Regions from separate parts of the Homo sapiens genome. Here region 2 is linked to region 1. Evidence: fine-mapped expression QTL. Tissue or cell type: whole blood. Region 1 holds a variant in brackets; the other region holds the start of a gene. All regions are shown on one strand. Distances are between the middles of the regions.

Evidence for each region. PIP is the estimated chance that this variant, and not a neighbour inherited with it, causes the effect.
Region 2: it holds the start of MAPKBP1, and the variant in region 1 is fine-mapped to the expression of MAPKBP1 in whole blood (TOPMed, PIP above 0.99).

Annotation. Positions count from the first base shown.
Region 1 is chr15:41,642,691-41,650,796 of GRCh38, forward strand. It overlaps a transcript of MGA not described here. Among named protein-coding and RNA genes, the nearest start is that of MGA, 14 kb to the right of the region's middle. The variant GTTAA/G (reference allele first, on the strand shown) is at 4,078.
Region 2 is chr15:41,769,888-41,777,993 of GRCh38, forward strand. MAPKBP1 (mitogen-activated protein kinase binding protein 1) reads left to right here and starts at 4,597. Exons shown (of 31, transcript NM_014994.3): 1 at 4,597-4,723; 2 at 5,280-5,502. The coding sequence starts at 5,389. MGA (MAX dimerization protein MGA) reads left to right here. Exons shown (of 24, transcript NM_001400225.1): 24 at 1-53. RefSeq lists an enhancer at 4,044-4,093.

The DNA.
Region 1 (8,106 bases):
TCTTGATCTCTTGACCTTGTGATTCCCCCTGCCTTAGCCTCCCAAAGTGCTGGGATTACAGGCATGAGCCACTGTACCCGGCCATTTTTTTGTATTTTTAGTAGAGATGGGGTTTCACCGTGTTGGCCAGGCTGGTCTCGAACTTCTAACCTCAGGTGATCTGCTTGCCTCAGCCTCCCAAAGTGCTGGGATTACAGGCGTGAGCCACCATGCCTGGCCTTTTTTTTTTTTTTTTCTTTTGAGACTGGGTCTTTGCTCTGTTGCCCAGGCTGCAGTGCAGTGGCATGGTCAGGGCTCACTGTAGCCTCATCCTCCCAGGCTCAAGTGATCTCTTACCTCAGCCTTCCAATTATAGGCATGTGTCACCACACTTAGCTAATTATTTTTTATTTTTTTTTTAGAAACAGGGTCTTGCTGTGTTGCTGGGGTTGGTCTTGAATTGAGCTCAAGCCATCTTCCTGCCTTGGCCTCTCAAAGTGCTGGGATTACAGGTGTGAGCCATGGTGCCTGGCTCTTTTTTTTTTTTTTAATTTATTTTATTTTATTTTATTTTTTATTTTTATTTTTTGAGACGGAGTCTCACGCTGTGGCCCAGGCTGTAGTGCAGTGGCGTGACCTTGGCTCACTGCAACCTCCGCCTCCCGGGTTCATGTGATTCTCCTGTCTCAGCCTCCTGAGTAGCTGGGACTATAGGCACGTGCCACCATGCCTGGCTAATTTTTTGTATTTTTAGTAGAGATGGGGTTTCACTGTGTTAGCCAGGATGGTCTCGATTTCCTGACCTTGTGATCTGCCTGCCTCGACCTCCCAAAGTGCTGGGATTACAGGGGTGAGCCACTGCGCCTGGCCCTGGCTCCCATTTTTAAAGTGATTTTTTTGTTGTTGAGTTGTAGGAGTTCTTTTTATATTCTAAATATTAGTCCATTATCAGATATATGGTTTGCAAATATTTTTTCCTTTTCTGTACATTGCCTTTTCACTGTCTTAATAGTGAATAATATACAAAAGGTTTTAATTTGATGAAGTCCAGGATCTTTTTTTATCGTGTATTACCTGTGCTTTTTGTGTCATACTTTTTTTTTTTTTTTTCCCTGAGATGAAGTCTCACTAAGTCGCCTCCGCCCGCCTCAGCCTCCCAAAGTGTTGGGATTACAGGCATGAGCCATCATGCCCAGCCTTTTTGCCATACTTAAGAAATCATTGCTAAATCCAAGGTTGTGACTCTTTCTCATTTTTTTTCCATAAAAGTTTTATAGTTTCAGCACTTACTTTTAGATCTTTGATCTGGTTTGTGTTCATTTTTGCATGTGGTGTGAGGTAAATGGTTCAACATAATTCTTTTATTTTTTTGAGTCAATGTTCTGCTGAACCAACATAATTCTTTTGTATGTGTATCCAGTTGTCCCAGTACCATTTTTTCATCCTCTGTGAATTTAATAAAGTACATCTTCATATTTTACATAATAAGACATTTCTTCATACTTTATATAAAACTGGCCTAACATTTCATTCAAAATATTACTATACAGGCCAGGTACAGTGAGTGGATGGATCATACATGTAATCCCAGAACTTTGGGAGGCTGAGGTGGGAGGATTGCTTGAGGTCAGTAGTTTGAGACCAGCCTGGGCAACGTAGCAAGACTCCATCTGTACCAAAAAAAAAAAAAAAAAAAAAAAAGAAGGCCGGGTGTGGTGGCTCACATCTGTAATCCCAGCACTTAGGGAGGCCGAGGTTGGAGGATCACTTGAGTCCAGGAGTTTGAGACCAGCTTGGTCAACATGGTGAAACCCTGTCTCTACTAAAAATACTAAAAATTAGCCAGGCATGGTGATCACGCACCTGTAATCCCAGCTACTTGGAATGCTGAGACATGAGAATCACTTGAAACCCGGGAGGAGGAGGTTGCAGTGAGCCGAGACTGTACCACTGCCCTCCAGCCAGCCTGGGTGGACTCTGTCTCAAAAAAAAGAGGAAAAGAAAAAATATTACCATTCAAAGTGAATATGAAATGTGTATTATTAATTGTGGAATACTAAAGTTGGAGTATATACCATAGAGGTTGTCTTCAGTCCTCCTTATTTTATAAATGTGGAAAGAAAGACCTAGAAAAGTTAACTGATGTCCAGTGTTGTATAGCTAATCAGTTGGAGATAATACGTTAACCCAGGTGTTTGCAAACTTTTTCTGTAGAGGGCCACATAGTAAGTATTTTAGGCACTGTGGGCCAAGAGGCAAAATAGGGTATTATGTAGGTACATATATTAAAAGAAAAAACAAATTTCCACAAATTTTGTATTGATGAAAATAAAAAATGTAATTGTTTAGTACTTTTTCATTTTGGTAATACATGTCTACAGATGAGAAGAATGGAATTCTTTTTTTGGGGAGGATAACAATTTGTTTAATTGAAGTTCAAAGTAAATGTTCCTTAGCCTTAAAATCAGTTGCAAATGTTCATCTGTTATTATTTATCTGTATGAGGTTTTATGTATTTAATCTTAGAAAATGTCATTTTTCACAGACAGGTCCTGCCAATTACTCATATCAATTCACAAGCATGTGTTTCTAATTGAGCCTGTTAGTCTCTTGGAAGGCATTTTAAGAATTCTGTTAGGGCCGAGTGCGGTGGCTCACGCCTGTAATCCCAGCACTTTGGGAGGCTGAGACCGGCAGATCACTTGGGCGGAGCTCCAGACCAGCCTGGCCCATGTGGTGAAACCCTGTCTCTACTAAAAATACAAAAATTAGCTGGGCGTGGCATGTGCCTGTAATCCCAGTTACTCGGGAGACTGAGGAAGGAGAATCTCTTGAACCTGGGAGGTGGAGGTTGCAGTGAGCTGAGATTGTGCCACTGCACTCCAGCCTGGGCTACAGAGTGAGACTCTGTCTGAAAAAAAAAATTGTTGGATTCTTTGATTTTTAAAACATTAGTTGAAGATTAATCACTTTAAATTTAAGGCTAGATGGAACCTCCCCAATTGCACAAGTAGATAGATTTTGAAATGGAGAAATTCCCTTTTCACTTGCACCAAGTTCTGGTGCAAGTATAAAATGCTGAACTTGGAAGATATATTCACTACAACTTTGTATGGGAATGGACATCTCTCATACTGTTTTAATTCTGGACAACACAGGAAGTGTATGTACTTTGACAATACTTGTGGTTCAAACAATATTAATTTTTATTGAAATGACTTTGTGGCAGCATAAGTTCTGCATATAATCACTGTTTTGCTATTTGACTAGGTTGAATTCATTGAGACACATGGTGAAGTCTGTCAGAAAAGCTAATTTCCAGAGCCATTCAGTGTTCAATTAAATAGTGGGTGTGGGTGGTCTCATTCAGAAAAATTTCAGCTCACCCTGAATTTTAAAAATTGCAGTAAAAATTTCCCTCTGCTAAGCTCAATCACTGCTTCAGAAAATAAACTGAAAAAGTTTATTTTCTCTGGATATACAATTCTTTGGCAGCTATAGTCAGATGTGATTTAGTTAACTAACTATTGCTAAGTGACTTTCCTTGCTTGGCTAATAGAGGTGATATTCAGAAGCTTACTTTCGTTGCATCCTCATTTGTAGTTTTTATTTTTGTGAAGAAATTTAGCTGTGAGGAGATATTCCATTTTATTTTATTAATATTTATTAATTTTTTTCTATTTTTCTTTTTTTGGAGATGGAGTCTTGCTCTGTTGCCCAGGCTGGAGTGCAATGGCATGATCTCGGCTCACTGCAATCTCTGCCTCCCGAGTTCAAGTGATTCTCATGCCTCAGCCTCCCCAGTAGCTGGGGTAACAGGCGTGTATTTTTAGTTGGAGGGGGAAGTTCTGCCATGTTGGCCAGGTTGGTCTCGAACTCCTGGCCTCAAGTGATCCACCCACCTTGGCCTCCCAAAGTTCTGGGATTACAGGTGTGAGCCACTGGAGGGAGAATTGCTTGAACCTGGGAGGTGGAGGTTGCAGTGAGCCAAGATCATGCCGCTGTACTCCAGCCTGGGCAACAGAACGAGACTCTGTCACCCCCCGCCCCCTGGAAAAAATGCGTTTTTTGACTTAATGATATTTTCAATTGTGATGG[GTTAA/G]TTGAGATATCACCCCACTGTAAGTTTATGGGGACCTGTATTGGTGTCATTCCAGGTTACTGGAAAATTATTTCTGTAACCTGTATGTGTACACTGGTTAGCAATGTAGTTTTTACTGAGTCACAGTCAGAAAAGTTAGAGAAATATTTATAGAGCATATATGATGTCAAGTAAAAAATGTCTGAAATCCATGAAGACTGCCTGTCTTCCATGTACAACTTACTTCTTCAGATTTGTTATTTCCATTGGATAAGCTTCAGGTTTCTTTTATATGTTGATGTTCTCCAGGGCTATTTTCTAGCTTGGCTCTCTTTTCTCATTCAGCTTCTATGGTTCTTTATCTTTTGTTGGGTCATACACCCCTCGGAAAATTGATAAAATTTATGGACCCTTTGTCAAAAATTGCTTGTATGTACCTTACACAAACTTGTGCTTACAATTTTAGGAGTTTCACAGGACATCTGCCTGCAAGCTCATTCGTAGATTCTAGATCAGAGCCCCACTTCTCTATGTGCTACCTGAATAATTGCACTTACATTTATAGTTTGAAATACATTGATTTTCCAATCTATTTCTTCAGTATGATTCTCTGTCCTGAGCACTAGACCCTGATATTCATTTACTTCCTCTCCTTGCATATGTGAATATTCTGTTGTACTACTCCACTTATGAAACTGTGTAGTTCCTGGAATACATTTTTCTGTTGTTAAATCCTTGACTCCTTGGTTATGAGGCTCTGCCACTTCCTTGTTCTTTAAGACATTCTCCCTCCTTAGCTTCTGTAATTCTACTCTCATCTATTTTTCTCTTATTTCTGTGACTACTCTTCTCTTCCTTTTTCCTAGATTCTTTTTTCACCACCTGTCATCTAAATGTCTGTTCTGACCATAACCCTCTGAAATATTTTACTCTACATTTTTGGGCTTTTTCAAACCCCTGGCTTTAGTTACTTCCCAAATCTTTGTATTTAGCTAAGGTTCACCTTTTTTATCTCCAGTGTCTACTGGACATTTCCACTTAGATCAATGGTTCCTAAATATTTTGGGGGATTACATACTCCCCTAATAATCTGATTAAGGTATATCTTTCTCCCCAGAAAAGTACATCGCATACTAAATTTTGCATACTGTTCTAGGTTGTTCCTGGACCTCTTTCAGCCCCTCCATGGATTCCCTGTGGTATTCTAATTAAGCAGATATTAAGATGTTCCTGAGCTGCCTTTAATTCAGTTTGTCCAGAATCGACACTATCATCATTGCCTCTAACCCATTTTATTCTTATTCCTCTCCCTAATGCTTCTAAATATAATTATTTGCCTCTTAATTATTTACTAACAAATTCATTCTGCAAATATGTGAATGCTTACTTCGTATCTGGCACCTGACCTGAATATGCAGTGATGCACAAAATAGACATGGTTATTTAGTTCTCTCAAAGCTTACTCTATAGCATAGTCATTAAAAGTGTGAACTTTGGAGCCAGAGTGTCTGGGTTCAAGTTTTGACTCCTTACTGCTTTGTGACCTTGAACAAATTACTTAACCTCTCTGTTTAATCTTTAACTTAACCTTTTAGTTTCATCATCAGCCTGCTTCACTGGTTATTAGGATTAAATGAGTTAATATATGGCAAATGCTGTGTATATGTTAGCTGTTATTCATGGAGGAGACATTGAATAATCATAAGTAAATATACATTTTGGTAAGTACTATGAGGGAATAGAACAGGGTACTTTGAGAGAGAATTTAAATTAGGGAGTAGGGATAGCATTGCTAAGGAAGTGATATTTAGACAAACTGGTAGGATGTATAGGTGTTACCCAGGTGAAGGTTTGTGGGGACTGGAAGCAAAGCGTTTCAGGCAAATAGAAAAAGCAGTGTAAGAGCCCTTCTCTGAGAAAATGTTTGGAGCATTTGAGAAATAGAAGGTCATTGTGCCTGGAGTATGATGTGTTATGGGGAGAATGATGTGAACGCGGAGATCTGTAGGCCATACTAAGGATGTTAGATTTATTCTAAATGAAATGGGAAGCTAATGGAAGGTTAAAAATGGCAGAAATGGCATGAACTGATTTATGTTTAGAAAGGGTCCCTTGATACTGTGTGGAGAATGGATTACAGGAGAGAGCCAGAATGAGTGCCTGGAGAGAGAGAAAAAAGAAAAGTCTGTTGCAGTAGTCTGAGTAAGAGCTGCTGGTGGTTTGGACTAGGGTGATGCATGAAGGTGGAATGAAGTGTGTGGGTGCAAAATGTTTTAAATTGAGTGCTTCTATGTGCAAGGTACTGTTGATAGAATCTTAGGGTACAATGTAGAGGTTAAAAAGGACATACAGGCTGGGCATAGTGGCTCACACCTGTAATCCTAGCACTTTGGGAGGCTGAGGCGGGTGGATCATGAGGTCAGGAGTTCAAGACCAGCCTGGCCAAGATGGTGAAACTTCGTCTCTACTGAAAATACAAAAATTAGCTGGTCATGGTGGCAGGAACCTGTAATCCCAGCTATTCGGGAGGCTGAGGCAGAGAATCGCTTGAACCTGGGTGGCAGAGGTTGCAAGTGAGCTGAGATCATGCCACTGCACTCCAGCCTGGACAACAGAGTGAGACTGTCTCAAAAAAAAAAAAAAAGGACATATAGTCTATAATTTGTAGGGATGGGATGAACAGGAGAGAGAAGACAATTATACAAATAAATATAAAAAATAGACCTGTGTAAGTTCTAGGAAGAACAGATACATGGTGTTTTTGACAGCGTATCATGGTCAGGAAGGTCAGTGATGTAGAATCAACAGGAAGATTTGATGATTGACTTGATGTAGAAGGAAGGGAGAGGAGGATATGTAGTTGGATATGGAGAAAAGTCTTACTGGGTTCTAGTCTTATTGTCATCTTCCACACCATCTTGTTTGTTTGTTTGTTTGTTTGTTTATTGAGCTGGAGTCTCTCTCTGTCACCCAGGCTGGAGCTCAGTGGTGCAATTTCAGCTCACTGCAACCTCCGCCTCCCAGGTTCAAGTGATTCTCCTGCCTCAGCCTCCTGAGTAGCTGGAATTACAAGCACCCGCCACCACACCTGGCTAATTTTTTTTATTTTTAGTAGAGACGGGGTTTCGCCATGTTGGCCAGGCTGGTGTCGAACTCCTGACCTCAGGTGATCTGCCTGTCTTGGTCTCCCAAAGTGCTGGGATTACAGGCGTGAGCCACCGCGCCCAGCCTTCCACACCACTTTGGTTAACCAGTAACCAAAGTAATTCTTTACTTCCTATGAGAATTATTCTATGATCCCTCAGTATAATTTAGTTGCTTTTTGTTTATACTTCCATTACACCCCAGGCAGAGAGCCAGTAGCTTTCTTTATTCTTTGTTGTCATCATTGAGTATTGGTTATCTGATAATAGTTGTCTGATAATTGATGGTAAGCTTTTGAGGGTAGGAATCATGTCTTTGCGTTCCAGGATATGTACATGGTAAGTGCTCAATAAATGTTTGACTTGAGGAATTAATGAATACTCTGTTCTTTTTTGTCATGTGCCTTTGCATAAGCTGTTCCTTCTCCTTAGAATGCCCTTCCTTCCCTTGTGTGCTTTGTCAACTTCTAGACATTCTTTAACACTAAGCCTTACTTGATACCTCAGTGTCAGTTCCTCCTACCACTATGCTTCTATAGTTTTTCTTAATTTTAATTTTTTTTTGAGACAGTCTCATTCCATCACCCAGGCTGGAGTGCAGTGGTGTGATCTTGGCTCACTGTAACCTCCACCTCCCTGGTTCAAGCAATTCATCTGTCTCAGCCTCCCGAGTAAATGGAATTACAGGCGTGCACCACCATGCCTGGCCAACTTTTGTATTTTTAGTAGAGATAGGGTTTCACCATGTTGGCCAGGCTGGTCTCAAACTCCTGACCTCAAGTGATCTGCTTCTCTTAGCCTCCAAAAGTGCTGAGATTACAGGCGTGAGACACTGTACCTGGCCCTATAGTTTTTCTTTTGTATACCTCTTATAAATATTTGATAGTGCAGAGTAGGGATCTA
Region 2 (8,106 bases), 130 kb after region 1:
TTGAAAGGTAGAATATATAAACCTGAAATAAAGCAGTTAAAACAATTAAAGCAGAACTTGGTGTTGGGAGGTTTGTGCCAACTTGGAGTGGAGAATTCTAATTCCCTAAGACATATTTGAGAGAGGTGCCACTGAAGTGGTTTTATCATAGGAATCCTTTCCTTTTCTCTAAGTTTCTGATATGCCATTTGGGGGAGGTTTTCGATGTTCTAATCCTTGTAGCATGTTTTACATGGAGGCTTCAAAATTGTGTGCAACCTGATGGCAAGTATTTGTTTTAGAAGTCATTCTAAAATCATTCTGGTGTCAGTATGAGCAAGGCAGTTCACCTGTTAACCTTGGGGAGTAAAGGTACACAAACACAGTCTTTTAGTGGTAAAGGACAGTAGGTGTTCTTAAGGGAAGATATGTTAAAGAGTTTGACAGTTAACAAAAACGTTTAAAGGAATCCTTTAGACATCCAACTACTCCTATCTATTAAGGTCACTAACAGATCAAGTCCAGTTATATAAGCTTCATACAAATTGTTCACTTTGTGTGATTTTATAGTACATACAATAGTTTTTTCGTGGAATTACAGATGAAATACCTGATGCTAGGCTCTTCTATAACAAGTTTGAAAATGTTTTGAACACACAAGAAAGGCAGACAATCCATATGTTATTTTTGGTTTAGTGGTTTAGATAATTTTTTTTCTAACTATACTGGTTGAGATATTTGAAATCAAATAGGGTGATGCACTTTAAAAACGGGTCTAGAAAATAGTGACAGCCCTTGTCCCTCACTCCAGAATTAAACAACAACAAACCATACACAGCACATTTTCCAGGTACTTTTATAGAGAATGACTGATAACCAAGAATCAGAATACATTTCTTGCACAAAACTGTTGGTTTTGAAGAAGGTGCTGTAAAGGCATCAGTACTTCATGTCACTGTATTATCACTAATGAAATTTTTATTTTTATTTTTTTTGAGGCAGAGTCTCACTCTGTCGCCCAGGCTGGAGTGCAGTGGTGCCGTCTTGGCTCACTGCAAGCTCTGCCTCCCGGGTTTACGCCATTGTCCTGCCTCAGCCTCCGGAGTAGCTGGGACTACAGGCGCCCGACACTGTGCCCGGCTAATTTTTTTGTATTTTTTTGTAGAGACAGGGTTTCACCATGTTAGCCAGGATGGTCTCAATCTCCTGACCTTGTGATCCGCCCGCCTCGGCCTCCCAAAGTGCTGGGATTACAGGCGTGAGCCACTGCGCCCGGCCTACTAATGAAATTTTACATGGACACAAATATCTAGGTGCAGGGAAAATTAAAGCTGAGATATTCAGACTCACTGCCAGTTGGAGGAAAAAAATCAGTTATAACGCATTTTTTGGAATAGAGGGAAATAATTTGATAAGTACAACTTTTTGTTTGAGGTGTAGCTAATGTTAGACATGACTGAGCTGTTCTACACATAAGTGTTGAATAGTGATGGTGGTGCATTAAGAGGATGGGAAGACTATGGGATGAGTTGGAAATTTTGAGACAAATCTAAACTCTACTAATTTCTATTGTTGTAAACTCTGCTGGTAGAAAAGATATTAAGTAGGAAAGCAGTCTTGGAAGCATGGTTTTGAGATCCATTGTGTTTCCAACTGCAATCATTGATCTCAGCTGTTGCACAGTGCCTTTGCATGTAAAGGTGCTCAATAAATATTTGAATTGATGAGCAAATGTTTAGACTGTTTCCCAGGAACTTATACCTTATTTGCATGTTATGCCTAGGGTGAATTTTAAAATTTGATCTAATGAGTATAGTGCTAAACAGACAACTATATAACGTCTATTCCCCAGACATCTAGAATTTCAGAAGCTGGCAAACACTATGTATAGATGTTTAGGACATATAAAAGTAGAATAAAGTGTTAAATAGTGTATGGATGATGAAATACTTATGAAGAGTTAACTGCATTTTGGAGGATTGGGATGGCAAGTAGAGTCATGCGTCACTTAATGATGGGGATACGTTCTGAGAAATGCACCTTGGGTGGTTTTGTTCTGCAAACATCATAGAGTGTACTGTACTTAAACAAACCTAGATGGTGTTGCTTAACCACACACCTAGGCTGTGTTGCTCCTAGGCTACAACTCTGTACAGCATGTTAACTGCACTGAATATCATAGGCAGTTGTAACACGTGGTGTTTGTGTGTCTACACATAGGAAAGGTATGGTAAAAATATGATATTATAATTTAATGGGATCATGTGGTCATTGAAATGTATACAGTGCATGACTGTAAATCTGAGTGGAGAAAAGTGAATAATGCTTCTGTTCACATTAGACCTGGGACTGTTATTTTCTGAGGAATTAATGAAGAATGGGAATAGCCTATATAGCTTATTCCTATATTGGTATCTCAAAGGCAGTGTAGTACCTAGACAATAAAAGTTGGACTGAATTGTGAAGAATTAAAAATGTGTGGGCCGGGCATGGTGGCTCACGCCTGTAATCCTGGCACTTTGGGAGGCCAAGGCAGGCGGATCACGAGGTCAGGAGATCGAGACCTCCTGGCCAACATGGTGAAACCCCATCTTTACTAAAAATACAAAAATTAACTGGGTGTGGTGGCGCGTGCCTGTAATCCCAGCTACTCGGGAGGCTGAGGCAAGAGAATGGCTTGAAACCAGGAGTCGGAGGTTGCAGTGAGCTGAGATCGCCACTGCAGTCCAGTCTGGGGACAGAGCAAGACTCTGTTTAAAAAAAAAAAAAAAAAAAAAAAAAAAGCGTGGCTTTGGCCTAAGACTGGAAGTACCCAGATTCCAGACTTAAGAAATCCTCATTAAAATGCTTTCAGTTGTTTTTCATGAAAGAAATGACCAGTGATACTTTGTAAACCATTTATCTGGCCATGAGTGATCAGGTGAGAAAACCGTTAGCGGACACCAGAATGATCTGGAGAGGATTAGGGACGGCTCTTGTGGGCACATTTTTACTCTAGTTTCATGGGTGGAGATGGCATCTGCCGTGGTCTGCAGCATGCAAGTAAAGACACCAGGTGGCACCATTTATTAGCTTTCAATCCCATGGAGAGGTCCCATCATGTAACTACCAAGAGGTTGAAGGAACCAACTACCTCTTGCATATTGTAGCTAATGGTTCTTGCCTTCTTCTTCCAGACTTGGGAAATAAATTTGAAAATCGTATTTTCTGTTTCATAATATTTGCAGTGCATGGTTGAAGGGAAGAAGGCCACGTGCTATTGCCAGTTGGTCTCCAGGAGGTGACATCCATCATCTCCATGTCAACTTGTGAGCTTTACAAATCTAATTTTCAGTACGTGGCTACAGTATACACAAGAAAATATGTGCTTTGCCACTTGGCTCTAAAGGCTCACCGTTGTACACAAGCAATGAGTTTAGGGGTTCTTCCCTCTTGTTATCACATGTCATCTCCACAGGGTTTCAAAAGATCTGGATAGGGTGAGACAGACACACCAGTGTAGTACTCCCTTGGGTCCCTTGTCTTTGGCTTAGGCTTTTTCATAAGGTATAATAATTTGTTAGAGGTTCTTCCCTCTTGCAGACACATGTCATCTCCACAGGGATTCAAAAGATCTGGATAGGGTGAGACGGACACACCAGTGTACTATTCCCTTGGGACCCAAGTCTCTGGCTTAGGCTTTTTCATAAGGTGATTTCTTGTGGTAGTAGTCAAGTGGAGAATACTCAGGAAATACTATTTCATGTAACATTTCCGTGTATTCCCTCTGCCTCCCCCGACATGAGTTAGAAAACTACCCCTCGATCTAGTATCAGCAAGCTCGACAGTGACCTCAGCAAGGAACAGCCCTAGATAAAAGGATTCATAAGTAAATGGAATGAGGAAAAGATCTGGAGCAACAAAGTCCTGGTCAGCTTTAGGTGAGGAAGCACAATGGGATGTTGGAGGCTAAAGAAGCCATGAAACCTAAAGTATTATAACATAGCATATTCACTTCTCTTTCCCCCGCACGCCCAAAGCTCTGTTCAAGGCCACCCTTTCCCCTTTCATGATGACCAGGTTGCCCAGTGCAAAAATACTGTTCTTAGCTATTAAATTGCATTACTCAGAATAATCCTTTCCACGTTGAGTCTACGTGCCGGACTGGCTGCGAGCAGAAACTACTTCAGTCGCTTTAAATCTCAACACTTGTGGTCGCTGGGAGCAGAGCTTTTAGGCTGTAGCTCAGTCTTGTAATTCTGAGCTAGGAGTTTCAGCTACGGTCCCTCGGGCCTATCAGATGACAACCTTAACACCCTGGAGGCGTGGTTATCGTCTTGGGGCTCTGGGAAGTGCAGTTCCATGGGGGACCAGGCCTGATAATACCATAAAAGGCTTGGTTCTCTCAATTCTGAAGCCATGTTCTGTTGACCTTCCTCTAAAAGCGGTACCCGCAATTGTGCGGATTCCGTGGTTCCCTAGTCCCAAGCCGTCTGCTTCCTGGGCCCTTTCATTGGCTCCGCCCCCGTAAACCTTGCTCGTCCACTCTGGAAGCGCTCTCCTGACTACAGGCCGCGCCCCTCGCGTCGGCTCCGCCCACCCAGCCCGCGGCTTGGCCCAGGCGGTAGTTCGCGTTTTGAGCCGATCGTGCCACCATAGCTCCTGCTGCTGCCTCTACCGCTGCGGCTACCGCGGCGGAGCTGAAATTGCCGAACGCGATGCCCGAGGGCGCTGTGAGCGGGGTGGCCTTAGCTCGCCGAGGCTGGTGAGGCTGGGCCCGAACGGGGGCGCTGACGAGTAGCAGGGGCCTCAGAGGCGGGTGAAAGATAAAGGTCCAGAGCCGCTGTGGAGGGCGGAGAGCGAGCTCTGGAGGATAGGGAGTGGGGGAGGGAGGCTCCCGTGGCAGAACGAGTTGTGGGCTACGGCGAGCCCCGCCGCGTCCCCGCCGGCGCTAGCGCAGGTGTCCAGGCCTGCGGAAATCCCTGGTGGTCTCGGCGGCCTCCTCCCTTGGACACTACAGTTGCCATGGGAACAGTTGGGCATTAACGGGAACCAGATCGTCCACGAGACCAACTGGGGCCCATCCCATCCATCTCGCCAGTTAAACGCCTCTGGCGGGCGTGGGCCTGGCATTTCTTCGTGGCTTAGGATTTTCCCCCCCTTTTTCGTGAGCCTTTCCTTCCGACGTTGTAAGAAACTGTGCAGGGCTAGAAGGTGGGGATGAGGGAAATGGTGAGAGCAATACCCAGAGGTAAAAGCTGCAGACTTCGCTAGGCAGAAGGTAAGACACTGTGATACTAAGGTGGCTTCTGCCATCTCAGGTCAGTGAGAGGGCATACTGGGAAGCCCTCTGGAGTGGGAAGACAGTGCCGCTGTTGAGACAAGACCCAGGACTGGGCCGGGGACTGTCCCAAAGGGTTTCTCGTCATAATGGCTGTGGAAGGGTCAACCATTACCAGCCGGATCAAGAATCTGTTGAGATCTCCATCCATCAAACTGCGCAGGAGTAAGGCAGGAAACCGACGAGAGGACCTCAGCTCCAAGGTGAGTCCTGTTGGGATCCACCTCTTTCCAAACCCACCCTCTCCTGCTCCATGTTCCTCGTTAACCTTCCTGTTTCTTGGGAAAGATAACTAGAAGCCCTTGTTGACTCTAAAGGATCACATATGATCTCTGCAGGCAATGATTTGGTTTTAGGTTGAAGGAAAAAGAGCAGCAGGGGTGGGCATGCTGAGATTCATCCATGAGAAAAGGTGAATAGTAGGAAGACCACCTGGGTTCAATTGTGGCCTCACTATACACTAAGCATGTGCTTGGGAAGCCAGTTGATATGCTATGACTCAGTTTCCCTTCTTGGGAGAGGACAGTAGGAACACATACCTTGTGAAGGGCTAAGCTGTGACTAATGTAGCTGCAGGTGTTAACGTAACAGCTGGGGTTATGTAAGACTGTAGTGGCAGAAAGAAATATGCTAAAACACCTAGTCAGAGTTACTGGCTTGGTAATTGCTCTTGCCTACGGTGAAAACAAATTTTTTTTGTCTCTTCAAGAGGCTAACTGGAGCCTTTTGGCTTCTTAGGAATAACATGCAAGAAGCCAGATATCTGTCAGCAAAACAGTTCTGGATGGCCCTTGAGCATTGCTTATCTCATTCACTATATGCCAAGAGCCACATCCCACTCAGCTGCAGATGATCCTCAGAGGCAAAGTTCCTTTCCATCGCTTCACTTGTCTGTGTTTTGGTCCTTATGCTTTTTCAACTAAATAAACCCCACAACTTTGGGAATCCAGAAGTAGTCGACATTTATTTAATCCCTTGAGGGAATCCAGGGCTTTACTCCCACAGGATCAGATCAGATTTTGTGTCTTATTAGTAGCCTGTAAACCCAATAGGGTTGTGAGGTACAAGGTTGTTACAGGGAGAGGCATTTGAGACCACAGCATTGTATTGCTTTGCCTGTATCTCTTCAGTGATGAGTAAATCCCATGAGGAATGATTTAGAATGCCACTGTACAAATGGCAGGGTTCTGGGAGGACTTAGTTCAGCCCTGTGTTCCTTAGCAGAACTTTGAGTAGATTTGGTAAGAAGGTGAAGAGCTTTCCTGTATATTTCAGCAGAAGTTGTGTTGAATCACAGTTTGCTACAAGGTTTTGTGATGGTGGACATTGTGACCCTTCCAAGGTCTCTTATTCATCATTGTTTCTATTCTCCTGAGGCAGGCAAAGAAGCCTGAAATGTAGAAATTGCCTTAGATATGACTCTGTTCATTCTTAATACTGCAAGTGCTCTTATTCTTGGCTGGTAGCTTGGCAGTGACCAGCACTGTTAGAGCAATCTTCTCCAATCTTTGGCCTCTTTTTCTGGCCAGGAATGATATATGTAGTAGAAACATATAATGAGAGTTTAGCCTTCATTGTTAATTCTTACTGTAATTTTGGTCTGGAATCCAGAAAGTATAGTTGCCATTCTTTAAGACTTCCAATATCATCCATTATTAATGCATTTAACAAGTGTTTATTGAGTGCCTATGAAGTGTGCAATCAGTGATGGGTAAAACATTACCCTTGCCATCAAAGAGCTTATGGCTAGTCAGACATGTAAACAATTAAAACACGGTGTGGTAAGTGCTGCTGTAGAAGTATGTGTACGTTGTTAATGGAAGCACAGGGGAGGCGACCTAAGTCAGTTCAGAGGAATTAGGAAAGGCTTCACAGGCCAGGCATGGTGGCTCACCCCTGTAATCCCAGCACTTTGGGAGGCCAAGGCGGATGGATCACTAGGTCAGGAGTTCGAAACCAGCCTGGTCAAGATGGTGAAACCTCATCTCTACTAAAAATACAAAAATTAGCCGGGCGTGGTGGTGCATGTCTGTAATCCCAGCTACTCGGGAGGCTGAGGCAGGAGACTCGCCTGAACCCGGGAGGCTGAGGTTGCAGTGAGCTCAGATCCTGCCAGTGCACTCTAGCCTGGGTAACAGAGCAAGACTCCGTCTCAAAAAAAAAAAAAAAAGGAAAGGCTTCACAGAGGAAGGGATGCTTGAACTGTGAGTCCTAAGGCAGGTGGAGAAGAGCTCTCCAGGAAAACAGTGGAAAAGGGGCATCCCTGGCAAGACCATTTACCATTCCCTGTTTAAAATAGGAATTCAGTGCTTCAGACTGCTTTAGATGGCTTTGTCTGTCCTGAAGCTGTGTATGAAAGAAATACTTAGCTGAAGTTGAATGACCCTTGAATGGTCTGGCAGCAAAATGACTGGTGCATATCTTTAGCACCCAAGAGGAGTAGCTGTCTTTGTGCGCCCAGGACCCTAGAGATGCCAGACTCCCCACACTCCTTAGTAAAAGGTCTCTACCTGAGATTATTCTAAAAGCCTGCCTTGTGATTACTCTAGTGTATTAAGCTCTGTGAGTTGCTCTAACATGTGGTGGCTGTGAGTAATCATGATAACAGGAAATTTGTGATTCATGGATAGCTAATTCTCAAATAAAATTTGAAGACAAAAAGGTACATGCCCCTTTTGGGGGGCAAAGAAGGAAATGTCAGAAAGCTTTTATGCAGCTCTTACTTCAGATGGCCTCCTGCTTTGAATTATACTGTTCTTTCTATCTAAAGTAGCCTTCTCCTTTACACCAAATTGTACACTTATTTT